2 separate regions of the Homo sapiens genome follow, and region 2 is linked to region 1. Evidence: fine-mapped expression QTL. A gene starts in region 1. The other region holds a variant in brackets. All regions are shown on one strand. Distances are between the middles of the regions. Region 1 holds the start of UBE2D4 (ubiquitin conjugating enzyme E2 D4). Region 2 has its middle 29 kb from the start of SPDYE1.

Evidence for each region. PIP is the estimated chance that this variant, and not a neighbour inherited with it, causes the effect. A credible set is the group of variants that fine-mapping cannot tell apart.
Region 2: its variant is the best candidate, but not a certain one, in a credible set for the expression of UBE2D4 in monocytes (Kim-Hellmuth 2017, PIP 0.73).

The regions. Positions count from the first base shown.
Region 1 is chr7:43,922,191-43,930,518 of GRCh38, forward strand. It overlaps UBE2D4 (ubiquitin conjugating enzyme E2 D4), which reads left to right and starts at 4,246. Exons shown (of 7, transcript NM_015983.4): 1 at 4,246-4,366. The coding sequence starts at 4,343. It also overlaps a transcript of URGCP not described here. RefSeq lists a silencer at 4,140-4,679.
Region 2 is chr7:43,964,697-43,973,024 of GRCh38, forward strand. It overlaps the pseudogene POLR2J4. Among named protein-coding and RNA genes, the nearest start is that of SPDYE1, 29 kb to the right of the region's middle. RefSeq lists an enhancer at 6,184-6,701. The variant C/CT (reference allele first, on the strand shown) is at 4,592.

The DNA of each region.
Region 1 (8,328 bases):
ACCTGGGATTACAGGTGTGCACCATCACACTTGGATAATTTTTGTATTTTTAGTAGAGACAGGGTTTCACCATGTTGGCCAGGCTGGTCTCGAACTCCTGACCTCAGGTGATCCACCTGCCTTGGCCTCCCAAAGTGCTAGGATTACAGGTGTGAGCCACCATACTTGGTATCACTTAACTTTCTGAGGAACTGCTAAACTCTTTTCCAAAAATGACTGCACCATTTTATAGTCGCACCAGAATGTGTGAGGGTTCCAACTTCTCCACATCTTTGTCAACACTTGTTGTCTGTCCCTTTAATTACAGCCATCCTAGAGGGTGTGAAGTGGTATCTCATTATGGCTTTGATTTGCATGTCCCTTATAACTCATGATTATTATTTTCTTGAGACAGGGTCTTGCTCTGTTTCCCAGGCTGGAATGCAGTAGCGTGAATGGGGCTCACAGCAACCTCAACCTCCTAGGCCCAAGCAATCATAGCTGGGACTACAGGCATGCGCCACCATGCTCTACTAATTCTTAAAATTTTTTCAAGTATCTGCTTTTGGTGAAGAAAAAAAATTTTTTTTCTTGTAGAGATGGGGTCTTGCCATGTTGCCCAAGCTGGTCCTGAACTCCTGGATTGGGTGATCCTCCCACCACAGTCACCCAAACTGCTGGGATTATAGATGTAAGCCACCACACCAGGCATTTTTTTTTCTTTCTCTTTCTTTCTTTCTTTCTCTTTCTTTCCGTCTTTCTTTCTTTCTTTCCTTCTCTCTTTCTCTCTCTTTCTCCTCTCTCTCTCTCTTACTTTCTTTCTTTCTTTTAGAAGGAGTCTCGCTCTGTTGCCCAGGCTGCTGGAGTGCAGTGGTACAATCTCGGCTCATTGCAACCTCTGTCTCCCAGGTTCAAGCGATTCTCCTGCTTCAGCCTCCCAACTGGCTGAGATTACAGGCATGCACCACCATGCCAAGCTGATTTTTGTATTTTTAGTAGAGATGGGGTTTCACCATATTGGCCAGGTTGGTCTCAAACTCCTGACCTCATGATCTGCCCTCTTTGGCCTCCCAAAGTGCTGGAATTACAGGTGTGAGCCACTGTGCCCAGCCTTTTTTTTTTTTTTTTTCCCAAAGAGACAGGGTCTTGCTCTGTCTCCTGGGCTGGAGTACAGTGGCTCAATCATAGCTCCCTGCAGCCTCAAATTCCTGGAATCAAGCAATAATCATACCTCAACCTCCCGAATAGCTGTGCCCTCAGATGCACACCACCACATCCAGCTAACTTTTAAATTTTTCTGTAGAATCAGGGGTTCGCTATGTTGCCCAATCTGGTCTCAAACTCCTGGCCTCGAGCAATCCTCCAACCTCAGCTTCCCAAAGTGTTGAGATTACAGGCCTGAGCCACCACACCCAGCCTGATTTTTTTAAAATGTGCTTATTGTCCAGTTGAGTATCTTCTTTGAAGAAATTTCTATTCACATCTTTTGCCCAGTTTTTAATTGGGTTATTTGTCTTTTTTATTGAGTTCTAAATGTTCTTAATATACTCTGCATCTTAGACTGTACTGAGATATTATTATTTCAAACATTTTCTCGCATTCTGTGTGTTGTCTTTTTGTTTTCTAGTTGGTATTGCTTGAAGCACAAAAGTTTTAAACTTTCATGTAGTCAAATTTATCCATTTAAAAATCTTTTGTGTATTATTATTATTTTTTTTTTGAGACACAGTCTCGCTGTTGCCCAGGTTGAAGGGCAGTGGTGCAATCTCAGCTCACTGCAATCTCTGCCTCCTGGGTTCAAACAATTATTGAGCCTGAGCCTCCCAAGTAGCTGGGACTACAGGTGCATGCCACCACACCTGGCTAAATTTTGTATTTTTTGTAGAGATGGGGTCTCACCATGTTGGCCAGGCTGAGCTCAAACTCCTGGCCTCAAGCAATCCACCTGCCTTGACCTCCCAAAGTGCTGCGATTACAGGCATAAGCCACTGCACCTGACCAATTGTGTATTATTCTTGCAACATTTCTGTACATCTAAAATTATTTCAATGTTAAAAATGAAACATTACATATAAGCATGCTAAAAAGTTTAGAAAACTATGCACTAAACTACCAACAGGGAATAGAAACAGAATTTTTCATTTTCTATTATATGTTTTTTTCCTGAATTATACAAATGATGCAAATTCTCTGTAGAAATTTTAGAGATTAACACATTAGTAAACCTACCATCCAAAAGTAATATTTTTGAGATTTGAGACTTCAAAACCACCATATACATTATTAGCACATAAATAACCATTTATATATTCTTACACAAATATATCAACATTTATAAAATCTAGAATCACTTGTTTTATGGGGAGGGAAGGCCATGTCAATAATGTAGGAGGATGGATGGCCCATGGACTAACAAAAATTTCTGTTGTCAATGTTTGACACCAAGGGGAAGTGCTTGACTTGGGCTGTTCAATGGGTGATGCTTGAGCTGGCTTTGGAAGGTGAATGCTCTAGTCAAGGAATGTAGATGCTGTGGTGATGGAAACACTTGATAGTCAGGTGGGCTGGAGGTAGGAAGGAGAAGGTAAAGCTGGAGGATACTTTGAGTTTTTGTTTTTTTGAGACAGGGTCTTGCTTTGTCTCCCAGCCTGGAGTGCAGTGGTGCCATCACAACTCACTGCAACTTTGATCTCCTGGGCTCAAGTAAGCCTCCCAAGTAGCTGGGACTACAGGTGCACACCACCATGCCCAGCTAAGTTTTGTATTTTTTGTAGAGACGGGGTTTCACCATGTTGCCCAGGATGGTCTAGAACTCCTGGACTAAGGGATCCACCCACCTCAACCTCCCAAAGTGCTGGGATTACAGGCATGAGTAACTGTGCCCGGCCGAGGATCCTGGATTTTGAAGGCCCCTGGATGACAGTGAATGTGATGCTGTAGGCCACGGGGCTTCCTTGAAGAGTTCTGGGTAAGGATGCAGTGTGGTAAGCTTTATATTTCAGACAGTTCATGAAGTTGTGTGGAGGACAGATTGGGGGAATGGGAGCGTGAAAGCCAGGGACAAAGCTGGGCAACTATTGAAATGTCTATAATACATTTTATATGCTGACTGAGTACAAACATAGAGGTGACCATGTGTCTTGGCTGGCTGGAGACAATTCTAGATTACAGCGTTGGTCCCAGAGTAATTATATTAACAGCCACTTTCATGCTCAAACATGTCTCAGTCTGAAGATTAAATATCATCTACATACACACACCAACAAAACTTCCACAATTCTTACCTTTACTATGTGAAATGCACTGATATTTTATTCTGTTTTTTTATTTTTATTTTTTATTATTTTTGAGACAGAGTCTCGCTCTGTCACCCAGGCTGGAGTGCAACAGTGTGATCTCAGCTCACTGCAACCTCTGCCTCCTGGGTTCAAGTGATTCTCGTGCCTCAGCCTCTCAAGTAGCTGGGATTACAGGCATACGTCACTACGCCCAGCTAATTTCTGTATTTTTAGTAGAGACGGAGTTTCAGCATGTTGGCCAGGCTGGTCTCGAACTCCTGACCTCAAGTGATCCGCCTGCCTCGGCCTCCCAAAGTGCTGGGATTATAGGCGTGAGCCACCTCGTCTGGCTTTTTTTTTTTTTTTTTCAAAAAAATGTTGGTTGCAACCTATTAAATTGATTTCGTGACACACTAGTTCATAACCCTCAGTTTGAACAACTCTGACCTAGACGCCTGCCAAGTCTTGGGAAAATAGGAAGGAGACAGATAATTAAGTTTGGGAGATGCATAGTCTAAGGCCAGGGTTCTCAATGTTGGCAGTGCAAGATCACGTGAGGTACGACTGAACACGGAGATCTCCAAAACTGCGGAGAGTTTTGCGTGTGAACGTATGCACAGACATCTACATGGAAATGGCTGTAACGCATCCAGCCATAAGGCGTACGAGGGTATATATACTTACAGAGTTAAGAACCACTATTCTCAGGAGTTATATGACAGCCTGGGAAGACGCCCAGGATGTAGGAACAGGGAGCAGGCGAGCGTGTGGCACCTTGAGGGTGCTCCGCGCGTCTCCGTAAAGCCAACGAGCCCCTCCTCTTCGCTGGCCTCTCCGGGGCCTTGCTGACTAGTGGTCGAAGCCACAGGACCAGGTGCGGGTGGCCAGCGTAACCCGGGCAGCCCCGCTGCTTCCCCTCGGCCGCGCCAGGACGCTCGGCACGCGGCGACGACGGCCCCACAGTGCCCCGCGCGCGCAAGCGCAGGCTGCGGCTCCCGGCGTGCAGCTTGGTGGCGGCTGAGCCGGCAGCGGGCCGCCTCAGGCAGCCCCGGCCGGGCCGCCCGGGTCCCCGGCAGCGGGGTAGGATGGCGCTAAAGCGGATCCAGAAGGTACGCACTTTCCCACCCTCCAACTCTTTGGGTGTCCGAAGCGTCGAGGTGTGGGCGGGGCGCCGCTGCCGTGAAGTGAAAGGTGACGGAGGCTCCGCGAGTCGCGGATACACCTGCCTGGGAAGGAGGCAGAACAGCCTCCCGCGCAGCCTGAAAAGCGAACGCAGCCTGAGAAAGGGATTGCGCGAGCGCGGGGCGGGGCCGGGCCGTGGCCACGAGGGCTGCGTCATGCGGGCGGGGCGCCGTGGGGCCACCTGCAGGCTTCTGGACAGCGGGTTCCCCCTGTAGGGTATCCAGAAGGGCTGGGTGGGTATCCAGAAGGGTATCCAGGAAGAAGCTGGGTCCTAAGGGATGAGTAGGAACTCGGCAGGTGGGGAAAAGGGGAAAAGGCTTTCCCTGCAACGGGGAGACTACGAGGCTTGGAGGACTGACAGGGTAGCGGGGAAGCTGAAGGGCAGATGGTGTGGACTTGGGTGGTCCTTAGGAGCAGTGCTGAAGTAACTGGTTTTTATCCTGCAGGTAAGAGGGAGTCCATGAGGGTTTAATGCATTCACTAGAATTTGGAAAACGCACAACAGTAGAAGAAAGAAGTATTTCTAATTCTATCACTTTACTATTTGTTAACATTTTAGCATACCTACCTTCAGTTTTTTTTCTATATTTAAAACAATTATACTGCATTTTGTATTCCACTTATTCACATAATAGTAAATGTAAGCATGTTGTGAAGTAGTATTTATAACTTTTTTTTTTTTTTTTTTTGAGGTCTTGCTCTGTCGCCCAGGCTGGAGTATCGCCCAGGCTGGAGTACAGTGGCACAATCATGGCTCACTGCAGCCTCAACCTTCTAGGTTCAAGTGATCCTCCCTCCTCAGCTTCCTGGGTAGCTGGGACTACATGCCACCATGCCAGCCAATTGTTTATTTTTTGTAGAGACAGTGTCTCGATATGTTGCCCAGGCTGGTCTCATACTCCTGGGCTTAAGCGGTCCTCTTGCCTCTGCCTCCTAAAGTGGCGGGATTACAACGTGAGACACCATGCCCAGTCCTATAACTAATTTTTAACATTAACTTTCCACAAGTACATGACTAGTAACTTATTTAGTCATTACCTGTAGTAGGTAAAAGTATGGACTTGGGTGTCAGACAGACCTGGGTTAGAGAATGTGAGGTCACTTATAGTGGGACCTTGGGCAAGGCACTTTATCATTCCTAGCCTCCCAGTCCTACATGTTTACAGAGTTGTTTTGAGAATTAAATGCTATGAAATGTGTTTAGCACATGCTTGCTGTATACCAAACACTCAATACGAGTTAGCTGCTGTTATTGTTCAAAATTCTTCACTAAGTATTTGCTGTTACGAACTGTGTATTAGTCTGTTTTGTGTTGCTATAAAGGAATATCTGAGGCTGGGTAATTAATAAAGAAAAGAGGTTTATTTGGCTCTCGGTTCTGCAGGCTGTACAAGAAGCATGGTGCCAGCATCTGCTTCTGGTGAGGCCTCAGGAAGCTTACAATCATGGCAGAAAGCAAAGGAGAAGCAGGCGTGTCACCTGGTAAGAGAGGGAGCAAGAGAGATGCCACCTCTTTTAAACACCCAGATCTCACATGAACTAATAGAGTGAGCACTCACTTATTATTGTGGGGGGGCCACCAAGCCATTCATGAGGAATCCGCCCCCACGACCCAGATACCTCCCACTAGGCCCCACCTCCAACACTGGCGATCACATTTCAGCATGAGATTTGGGGGGGACAAATATCCAAACCAGATCAACCATCATTGTACAATGAGCCTTTTCCTTAATTCACATTACTGGGTTTGATTGCCAGAGGTGGAATTACAGGATCTCTGAGAGTATGACTCTTTTTTTTTTTTTTAAATAAATAGCTGTCCAAAAGAGAGATAATTCTGATGAGTTATTCTCTGAAAGGGGTCATCTGTCATCCTAGGACTTTGAAGCAGGTGAATGACATGCTGAGATCTGTGTTCTAAAAAGATCTTTCTGGCAGCAGTGTGGCCGGAAGTGGGACAGAGGGAGACTAGAGGCTGTTGTGAAGGTTCAGTAGAGGCTTTGTCCAAATTAATGACCATGGAATGGATGCTAGGCCAGAGCAGTGCCTGGACCACATTGCAGAAGTGGAATTGACAGGACTCGAGGAGAGGATGTGGTGAAAGTGAAACAAGGAGGTGTACAAAATGGGTCACTTAGTGGATGGTGGTGTCAGTGTCTAGGATGGGGAATCAGAAGTTTTGAAGGCAGGGAGGAGGGTAGGAGAGATTAAGGAATAAAGGTTTGAGCCTACATATTCAAATGTGTAGGCTGATAAGATTTATAAAAGGGAGCGTTTGGAAAAACAAGTTTGGGCCTTGAGCATGAAATGTCAACTATAGATCCAAGGTAATTGAAATCATAAGGCCAGGGAGAACTTTTCCTTGATAAGAATCAAGGACAGGCTGGGTACAGTGGCTCATGCCTATATCCCAGCACTCTGGGAGGCCGAGGCAGGTGGATTGCTTGAGTCCAGGAGTTGGAGACCAACTGGGCAACACAGCAAAATTCCATCTCTACTAAAAATAAAAAAATGGCCGGGTGAGGTGGCTCATGCCTGTAATCACAGCATTTTGGGAGGCCAAGGCGGGTGTATCATTTAAGGTCAGGAGTTTGAGACCAGCCTGGCCAACTTACTGAAACCTCTTCTGTAATAAAAATACAAAAAAATTAGCTGGGCATGGTGGTGCATGCCTGTAATCCCAGCTACTTGGGAGGCTGAGGCAGGAGAATTGCTTGAACCCAGGAGTGGAGGTTGCAGTGAGCTGAGATTGTGCCACTGCACTCCAGCCTGGGTGACAGAGCGAGACTCTGTCTTAAAAAAAAAAAAAAAAAGTAAATAAAAATTAAAAAAAAAATTAGCCAAGCGTGGTGACACACACCTGTAATCCCAGCTACTTAGGAGGCTAAGGTGGGAGAATCACCTGAGCCCAGGAGGTCAAGGCTGCAGTGAGCCTCACCACTGCACTCCAGCCTGGGCAACCAGAGTGAGACCCTGTCTTAAAACAAAAGCAAAACAAGAATCAAGGTCAGGGCTGGCTTCATGTGTGTGTGACGCATTCACTCTCACAGGGCCCCAGGCTTGGATGGGCTCTGCCTTTGGTTTTATGCTCTGCTGTCACTATCAGGAAATTCTTAATAATTATCGAACTTGAGACCCTACATTTTCACATTCACAAGGCCCTGCAAATTCTGTAGCAATTCCTGGGGAAAAACAACAGAATTGTAGGAAATACAACTTTAAAAGTGTGTCAAGCCTGCCGTGGTGAGATGGCACCATTGGGCCACCACTAGTTAGGATGTCTTGGCTGCAAGTGACAGAGGCTGAGCTGCCCTTGTGCATGGAATTGGAGGTCCTGTGGCAGGACTTTGGGAGCAACTCAGTCCCCCTCTCCTGGTCTGTTCCTGTGTCACTCTGGGCTGAATGGCTCTGGAACACACAGCCTGCTGGACATCTGGGAGTAATAGAGACAACTGCTTCCAGAAGAACTGATAAGAATATTCTCAGAAAGCCCAGCAGATCTTTTTTTCCCTTTGCCTTGTTATGAATTATGTCTCATGCTCATTCCGAAACCAATGAGTGGCAAGGAGTCTGGTTACTCTTAGACCTGGAGCTGACAGTGAGTTGACCAGAACTGAACAGCAGTCCTTCAGAAAGGAGGAAGGCGGATGGGTGCTGAGCAGGTAGCCAGCAGTATGCAAGCCTGAGCCAGGTGTGTGGTGTCTACTAGCTGCCCCCTTAGTTTCCAATCCACAGCCCTTTCTAACCAACTTCAACCCTTTAAAAAAATGTTTTCAAATGAATGTTTCAAATTGAATATTTTTAGATGCACTTTTTAGTTAGTTAGTTAGTTAGTTAGTTTTTTGAGACAGGGTCTTGCTCTGTTACCTAGGCTGTAGTGCAGTGGCTC
Region 2 (8,328 bases), 43 kb after region 1:
GATCCTCCCACCTTGGCCTCCCAAAGAGCTGGGATTACAGGCATGAGCCACCGCTCCTGGCCAACGGTGTCCTATCTTATCTCACAACCCTATTCCTGGAGAATCTGGCATAGGGAGTTGGAGCTATGGCTCAGGGACACTGACCTTGGAGACTTGAACCCTGGTCTGAGGTCTGCAGGGAAATTTTCAAAGGGAAAATGTCTGAGTACTTGTTTCAGAAACTTCCAGAGGCAGAAAGCAGGAGACCTGTACAACCTGTGAGCTAAGAAGACAGACCTGGCCGGGTTTGGTGGCCCATGCCTGTAATCCTAGCACTTTGGCAGGCTGAGGCGGGTGGATCACTTGAGGTCAGGTGTTCGAGACCAACTTGGCCAACATGGTGAAACCCTGTCTCTACTAAAAATACAAAAATTAGCCGAGCATGGTGGCACACAGTTGTAATCCCAACTAATCAGGAGGTTGAGGCAGGAGGATCACTGGAACCCAGGAGGTGGAGGTTGCAGTGAGCCAAGATTGTGCCGCTGCACTCCAGCCTGGGTGACAGAGCAAGACTCCATCTCAAAAAAAAAAAAAAAAAAAAAAAAAAGACAGAAGACAGAGCTGAGCTGAATGCAGAACTGTGGGGAAAAATAAAGGGGAGGGGCCGGGCGCGGTGGCTCATGCCTGTAATCCCAGTACTTGGGGAGGCCGAGGCAGGTGGATCACCAGGTCAGGAGATCGAGACCATCCTGGCTAACATGGTGAAACCCTGTCTCTACTAAAAATGCAAAACATTAGCCAGGCGCAGTGGCGGGTGCCTGTAGTCCCAGCTACTTGGGAGGCTGAGGCAGGAGAATGGCGTGAACCTGGGAGGCAGAGCCTGCAGTGAGTCGAGATCACGCCATTGCACTCCAGCCTGGGGACAGAGTGAGACTCCATCTCAAAATAAATAAATAAATAAATAAATAAATAAATAAATAAATAAATAAATAATAAATAAAGGGGAGGTGGAGCCCAGCCGGGATGAGAAGGATGCTGGCTAGGTGGGCAGGGGCTGAGGGGACCCTGGAGCTGTGTCTCCTGACCTCTCACCCCTGAGCAGCCCCCCTGCCCTGCCTGCCTGTAGCCAATTCCCAAATGTCAGCCCCCACCCCACCCCTTGAGGCCGGCTGCCCAGCTCCATGCACTTACTCGTCATGCTGCCGGCTCTTGGACTGGTCGGGCTGCAGCCGGAACCAGCCCTCCTCCTGCTGCGCCACCCGCAGTCTCTGGACATCGATCACCACCTGGGGACATAGTGGCAGTTTTCCTGGAGCTGGGAGACTTAGGTCTCCTCCTTGCCAACTACTGTTCTTAGTGGGGAGGGGCCTCTTCCAAGGGTCCCTGAGTGCCAGTGGTGGTGGGGGGAAGTTGCTGGTTCTGGCAGACGGTGGAGGTGGGGGGGTAGTCCCAGGCTTCCTGAGTGTCCCTCTTTGGGGAAGCCAGAAGGAGGTCCCTGAGGATGGGATGGCTGCAATGGAGCCAGGTGCTGGGGGACAGCAGGTGCAGCCTGCCGGGGGAGGAGGGGGGGCGGGGCGGTGGTGCTCACTTTGCCCAGGAAGTCGTTTCGGCTGACAAGGTCCCAGTCCCAGGCCTCCACGCACAGCGCCTCCACGGCCCCCTCCTGCAGCTCAAATTCAAACGTCTCATTCCAGCGTGGGTAGCATGACTTCTTCATGATCTGCCCAGAGGAGGGTGGGAGGGGGTTAGGCTGATGCCACTGGACTCCCCAGGCTGGGCAAAAGGCAGAGCTGCCCTAGACACCTCCCCTGGGTTCCCCACAGCCTCCTCGCCTTGGAGGTTCTGCCACAGCAGAGGTTAAAATGTCCTGTCCAAGCTCCCACCCATTTCTCAGATGGGGAGAACTGAGGCCCAGGGTGGGGAAAAGATGTATCCGAGGCCACACAGCAGAACAGTACTGACTATGAGGATGTGGTGAACAGGGAATACCTCTACACTGCTGGTGGGAATGTGAACTAGTACAACCACTATGGAAAACAGCGGAGATTCCTTAACTAACTAAAAGTAGAACTACCATTTGATTCAGCAATCCCACTACTGGATATCTACCCAGAGGAGAAGTCATTATACAAAAAAGATACCTGCACACATATGTTTTTGTTTTGTTTGTTTTGTTTTGTTTTTGAAACAGTCTTGCTCTGTCGCCCAGGCTGGAGTGCAGTGGCACGATCTCAGCTCACTGCAACCTCCGCCTTCTGGGTTCAAGTGATTCTCCTGCCTCAGCCTCCCAAGTAGCTGGGATTTCAGGGGCCTGCCGCTACGCCCAGCTAATTTTCGTATTTTTAGTAGAGACAGGGTTTCACCAGGTTGGCCAGGCTGCCCTCAAACTCCTGACCTCAGGTGATCCGCCTGCCTTGGCCTCCCAAAGTGCTGGGATTACAGGCGTGAGCCACCGCGCCTGGCCCTTTTATTCTTTTCTTTTTTTTTTTAAACAGGGTCTTGCTCTGTTGCTCAGGCTGGAGTACAGTGATGCAATCATAGCTCACTGCAGCCTCCACCTCCTGGGCTCAAGCAATCCTCCCACGTCAGCCTCCCAAGTAGTTGGCACTATAGGTGTGCCCCACCACACCTGGCTAATTTTTAAATTTTTTTGTAGAGACTGGATCTTGCTGTTGCCCAGGCTGGTCTCGAAATCCGGGCCTCAAGAGATCCTCCCACCTCTGCTTCCCAAAGCACTGGGATTACTGGAGTGAGCCGCTGCACCCTGCCAGTATCCCCTACTTAGAACTCTTTGTGGAAGAACACCAAAGCCCACTCATCTTCGATATTTTAAGCCTCTCATACCTGCCTTTCTTCCCCCTCAAGACTGTCTAATAAAACCCCCCAACATTGAGGCTGGGTGCAGCGGCTCATTCCTATAATCCCAGCACTTTGGGAAGGAGGCTGAGGCAGGAGAATTGCTTGAACCTGGGGAGGCAGAGGTTGCAGTGAGCCAAGAAAACGCCACTGCACTCCAGCCTGGGCGACAGAGCCAGACTGCCTCAAAAAAAAAAAAAACACCAAAAAAAAAAACAGCCCGGGTGCAGTGGCTCACGCCTGTAATCCCAGTACTTTGGGAGGCCGAGGCAGGCAGATCACCTGAGGTCAGGAGTTTGAGACCAGCCTAGCCAACATAGTGAAGTCTCGTCTCTACTAAAACTACAAAAAATTAGCCAGGCGTGGTGGTGCACACCTGTAATCCCAGCTACTAGGGAGGCTGAGGCAGGAGAATTGCTTGAACCCAGAAGGTGGAGGTTGCAGTGAGCTGAGATCGGGCCACTGCACTCCAGCCTGGATGATGGAGCGAGATTGTCTCAAAAACAAAAAACAAAAAAACCCCAAGGTTTTACTGAAATATTGAGAATCTCCCCAGAAAAAATAAGGAGGAAATGTTCTTTCTTCCTCTGCAGCAAATGGACCTTCTTAGGCTGACTTGGAATTGCAGCAGGAGTCTCATTGCCGAGGACAACGGGGGACAAGTCCCCTCACTCTGAGAGAGGCCTGGACATTCCTCTCCCCTGCTAGGACTCACTAGAAGGCCAACCACTGTGGCCCCAGAGGATGGGAGAGGGGAGATTCCTGGAGAGAGGGGAGGGCCAGGGAGACATGCTTCCATGCCTCCCATCTCCGTGGGTGACGATGGGTGCCTGGGAGAAGTGGCCCCGAGGTCCCAGAGCCCGGCCACGTGTGTGAGCGGGTGCACACGTGTGCATGCCTGTCCCCCAGACAGCCTGGTGCCCAGAAAGGATAAGGATGGAAGAAGCAGGTGAGTTGGGGTGGGGCGGGGGGGAATGAATGGCAGGGCCAGAGAGTGAGCGAGTGTGGGGGCGTGGCTGAGGCTCGGCCCAAGCCCAGACATTTTCCATCCATTTCTATTTTCCCAGGACAGAAAATAACTCCCGGGAAGCCAGAGTGAGCAACATGGGCATCATCCGACCCACACCCCTCTGCCCAAGGGAAGTCTTCCTCTTAGACAGGCTGACCCCTCAAGGGTGGGGGGAACACTGGCTCCATAGGGCTGCCTGGCTGGGGGCCACCCTCCTGCCTCACAGGCAGGGAGCAACTTGGGGAGGTGGGTTTGGAGCTGGAAGGGAAGACGCTTCTCACGGACAGAGTGTGACTCAGACCCAGGCCCAGACGGGAGTGCAGCCTGCAGCTAAAAATACCCTGGGGGTTGGGGGGTGGCCCTGTCACAGGTGACTCAGGCCCATGGAACCATCCAAACCACTGTCCCTCCTTGGGGGAACCCTCAATTTGCCCATCGGGAGATTTTCAGCAACTCTTTTCACCCCCCCAGCCCCACGAGGGACCCACTTACACACACTCCCACCAGGCCAAGTTCACACTGGCGTTAAACATAAGGAAGCCGGCCTTAGCACTGGGGGACTGAGGCTGTGTGATCAGAGTTCGGGGTCTCCTCACCCGTACCCCCTACTCCACTCCTCTGTGATGGCTCCAGTTCCTCCATGAGAACATTAGACTGTCCCTTAAGGGACATATCCCCTTGAGTGGAAATCACCCAAGAAGCATCTTCAAGTCCAGAAAACCTCCCCAGACCCTCTCTTTTTTCTTT[C/CT]TTTTTTTTTTTTTTTTTTGAGATGCAGTCTCGCTTGTCACCCAGGCTGGAGTGCAGTGGCGCCATCTCGGCTCACTGCAACCTCTGCCTCCTGGGTTCAAGACTCCTGCCTCAGCCTCCTGAGTAGCTGAGATTACAGGCGCCTGCCACCATGCCCGGCTAATTGTTGTATTTTTAGTAGAGACAGGGTCTCACCATGGTGGTCAGGCTGGTCTTGAACTCCTGGCCTCAGGTGAACCACCTGCCTCGGCCTCCTAAAGTGCTGGGATTACAGGTGTGAGACACTGTGCCTGGCGAGACCCTCTCTTGAGAGCAGGCTTTGATGGGAGGTGGCCAGCTCTGGGACCAGGAGGTAGAGGTGGGGCGAGGGGGGGCTCAGCTTCCTCATTGGGTTTCTCTAGTTGCAGGGGACCCACTGCCCGCCCCCAGGCCCCTGAGTCTCACCTGGCCTCCAGCACAGAGCAGCGTAGCTGGCAGGCCCGGGCCCCTGGGCGCACTTCCAGCCGCAGGTGGATCTCGCCCTGCACCTCCTCATCAGGGTCAACCTCCGTCAGGTGGGCCCACCCGCTGAAACCTGTGGGGTCAGCTCAGCCAGGGACACGGCCCTGAACCCCCATACCCTCCACCCTCAGCCCTACCAGGCACCTTGAGGCACCTCCATAATCTCCTGGGAATCCCCTAGGCACCCGTGAAGCAGGGGCTGGTATCCCCAATGACAGATGGGGAAACTGAGGCTCAGCAGGTGAAGAAACAGCAGTTGGAAGAGCTGGGATTAGAATCTAAGTCAGTGACCTGGGGCCTGTGCCCTCACTATTGTGTCATTTTTGTCGTTGTTGTTTTTAGAGACAGGGTCTCACCCTGTGAGCCAGGTGTGGTGGCGCATGCCTGTAATCCCAGCTCCTCAGGAGGCTGAGGCAGGAGAATTACTTGAACTCAGATCGCACCATTGCACTCCAGACTGGGTGACAGAGCAAGACCCCATCTCAAAAAAAAAAAAAAAAAAAAAAAAAAAAAGATGGAGTCTTGCTATGTTGCTCAGGCTGGTCTCAAACTCCTGACCTCAAGCAATCCTCCCACCTCAGCCTCCCAAGGTGCTGGGATTATGAGCGTGGGCCGCTGTACCCAGCCAGATTCCCCATCTTAAAACGGGAAGAGAGTGGCCCTCCCCTAGGGCTGCTGGGAGGAGGGTCTGAGGCCCAGATGGAGAAGCTACAAGATTGCGCCATTGCACTCCAGACTGGGTGACAGAGCAAGACCCCATCTCAAAAAAAAAAAAAAGATGGAGTCTTGCTATGTTGCTCAGGCTGGTCTCAAACTCCTGACCTCAAGCCATCCTCCCACCTCAGCCTCCTAAGGTGCTGGGATTATAAGTGTGGGCCGCTGTACCCAGCCAGATTCCCCATCTTAAAACAGGAAGAGAGTGGCCCTCCCCTAGGGCTGCTGGGAGGAGGGTCTGAGGCCTGGATGGGGAAGCTACAAGGCACCCGGAGGAATAGCCTCACTGGGGCCACTAGACCCCAGAGACGCTGGCTAAGGCTGCAGGTGGGAAAGGCCTTTGGCCTGGCAGGGGCCAAGAAGCCCCATGAGTCAGCAGAACCTGCCTCCGCCCTGCCCCCATCCCTGGCCCAGCGTCACAGACAGGAGCAGGTGTGTGTGGGGGCAAGCCAGTAAGCGGGACACAAAGGCTCTGATGGCAGAGCCCATAGCATCCAAGAACTGGTTTGAACCCTCAGAGAAGCCCAGAGAAGGCAAGAGCTGCCCAAGGTCACACACAGTGAGGCTGGCACAGGGCTGAACCCTCAAAATCATGTCTGGCAGAGCATGGTGGTTCACACCTGTAATCCTAGCACCTTGGGGAGGCCAAGGCGGGAGGATCTGTCAAAGCCAGGAGTTCAAGACCAGCCTGGGCAACAGAGTGAGACCCCCCATCTCCATTTTTTTTTTTTTTTTTGAGACAGAGTCTTGCTCTGTCACCTAGGCTGGAGTGCAATGGCGCAATCTTGGCTCACTGCAACCTCTGCCTCCCAGGTTCAAGAGATTTTCCTGTCTCAGCCTCCCTAGTAGCTGGGATTACAGGTGAGTGCCACCATGCCCAGGTAATTTTTATATTTTTAGTAGAGACAGGGTTTCACCATGTTGACGAGGCTGGTCTTGAACTCCTAATCTCAAGTGAATTGCCACTGGGATTACAGGTGTGAGCCACCATGCCCGGCCTCCATCTTTGTTTTTCTTTTGGAGATGGAGCTTGCTCTGTCATCCAGGTTGGAGTGCAATGGCGTGATTTTGACTCACTGCAACCTCCGCCTCCTGGATTCAAGCGATTCTCCTGCCACAGCCGCCTGAGTAGCTGGGATTACAGGTGCCCACCACCACGTCCAGCTAATTTTTTGTATTTTTAGTAGAGACAGAGTTTTGCCATGTTGGCCAGGCTGGTCTTGAACTCCTGACCTCAGGTGATCCACCTGCCTCGGCCTCCCAAAGTGCTGGGATTATAGGTGTGAGCCACTGCACCCGGCCTCTATTTTATTTTTTATTTTTATTTTTTATTCATTTATTTATTTATTTTTGAGGTGTAGTCTTGCTCCGTTGCTGAGGCTGGAGTGCAGTGGCGCGATCTCGGCTTACTGCAAGCTCTGCCTCCCGGGTTCACGCCATTCTCCTGCTTCAGCCTGCCAAGTAGCTAGGACTACAGGTGCCTGCCACCAAGCCCAGCTAATTTTTTTGTATTTTTAGTAGAGACGGGGTTTCACCATGTTAGCCAGGATGGTCTCGATCTCCTGACCTCGTGATCCACCCGTCTCGGCCTCCCAAAGTGCTGGGATTACAGGTGTGAGCCACCGTGCCCGGCCTTTTCTTTTTTTAAAAAACTATATAAAAATTGTAAAAACAATAACACAAAACAATGTCTGCATCCCAGAAATAATTGAAAGGGATCTCCAGCCTGGACTGGCTCTAGGCCAACCCTTCAGACTTAGGACACAGTAGTACTAGGGCCCAGATGGAGGAGACCCCATGGGTTACAGAAGGAGCTGGCCTGATTTGGAGAAGGGGTCCCTATGCTTCAGCAATAGAGTGTAAGGAGGCCCCTTCTTCTGCCAGCAGAGGCCTCAGATTCCACCCATAGCAGCCCCTCTTCACCCTAGGGAAGAGGCAGTAACAACCAGGCTTGGGAACATGCTGCAGAACAGAGGCCAGGAGTACAGAACGTGGCCCCGGCTTCTGGGGAGAGTAGAAATGGCTTTCCCTGAGCAGGAGACCAGACGGAGCCTAGAGGGGAGGTCTCTGAGTGGGAGGGAGGCCAGGGACTGGGCAGACCAGTGCGGGAGGGAAGGGAGAACTTACCCTTAGGGTGAGAAGCTATGGTGTCCCTTGTAAGGCAGACCTTTCCGATAACGTCGTCCCGGCTAGAGGAGGGAGATGGAGGCAGAGCTGGGCAGGGCTTCAGTATCTGCCCTCTGGGACCTCCCACCAAGTTCAGGGCCCCCCCGGGGGGAGCAGGGTGGTGGACACCGATGTCATTTCCAGAGTAACCCAACAGAGCTGGACCTGTGGCCCTTCTGTAGGCTGTGGGTTCTGGACCCTCTAGGGGGATGTGATAGGTTTCTCACATGCCCACACATGCCAAGCTCACACTCTCTGGGTGCCCATCTCACAGCTCACACCTGCACGCACACGTGTAGTCCATGCACACTTGTGCCCGCATGCCTGCACACACACGTGTGTATGTGGTGCATGCA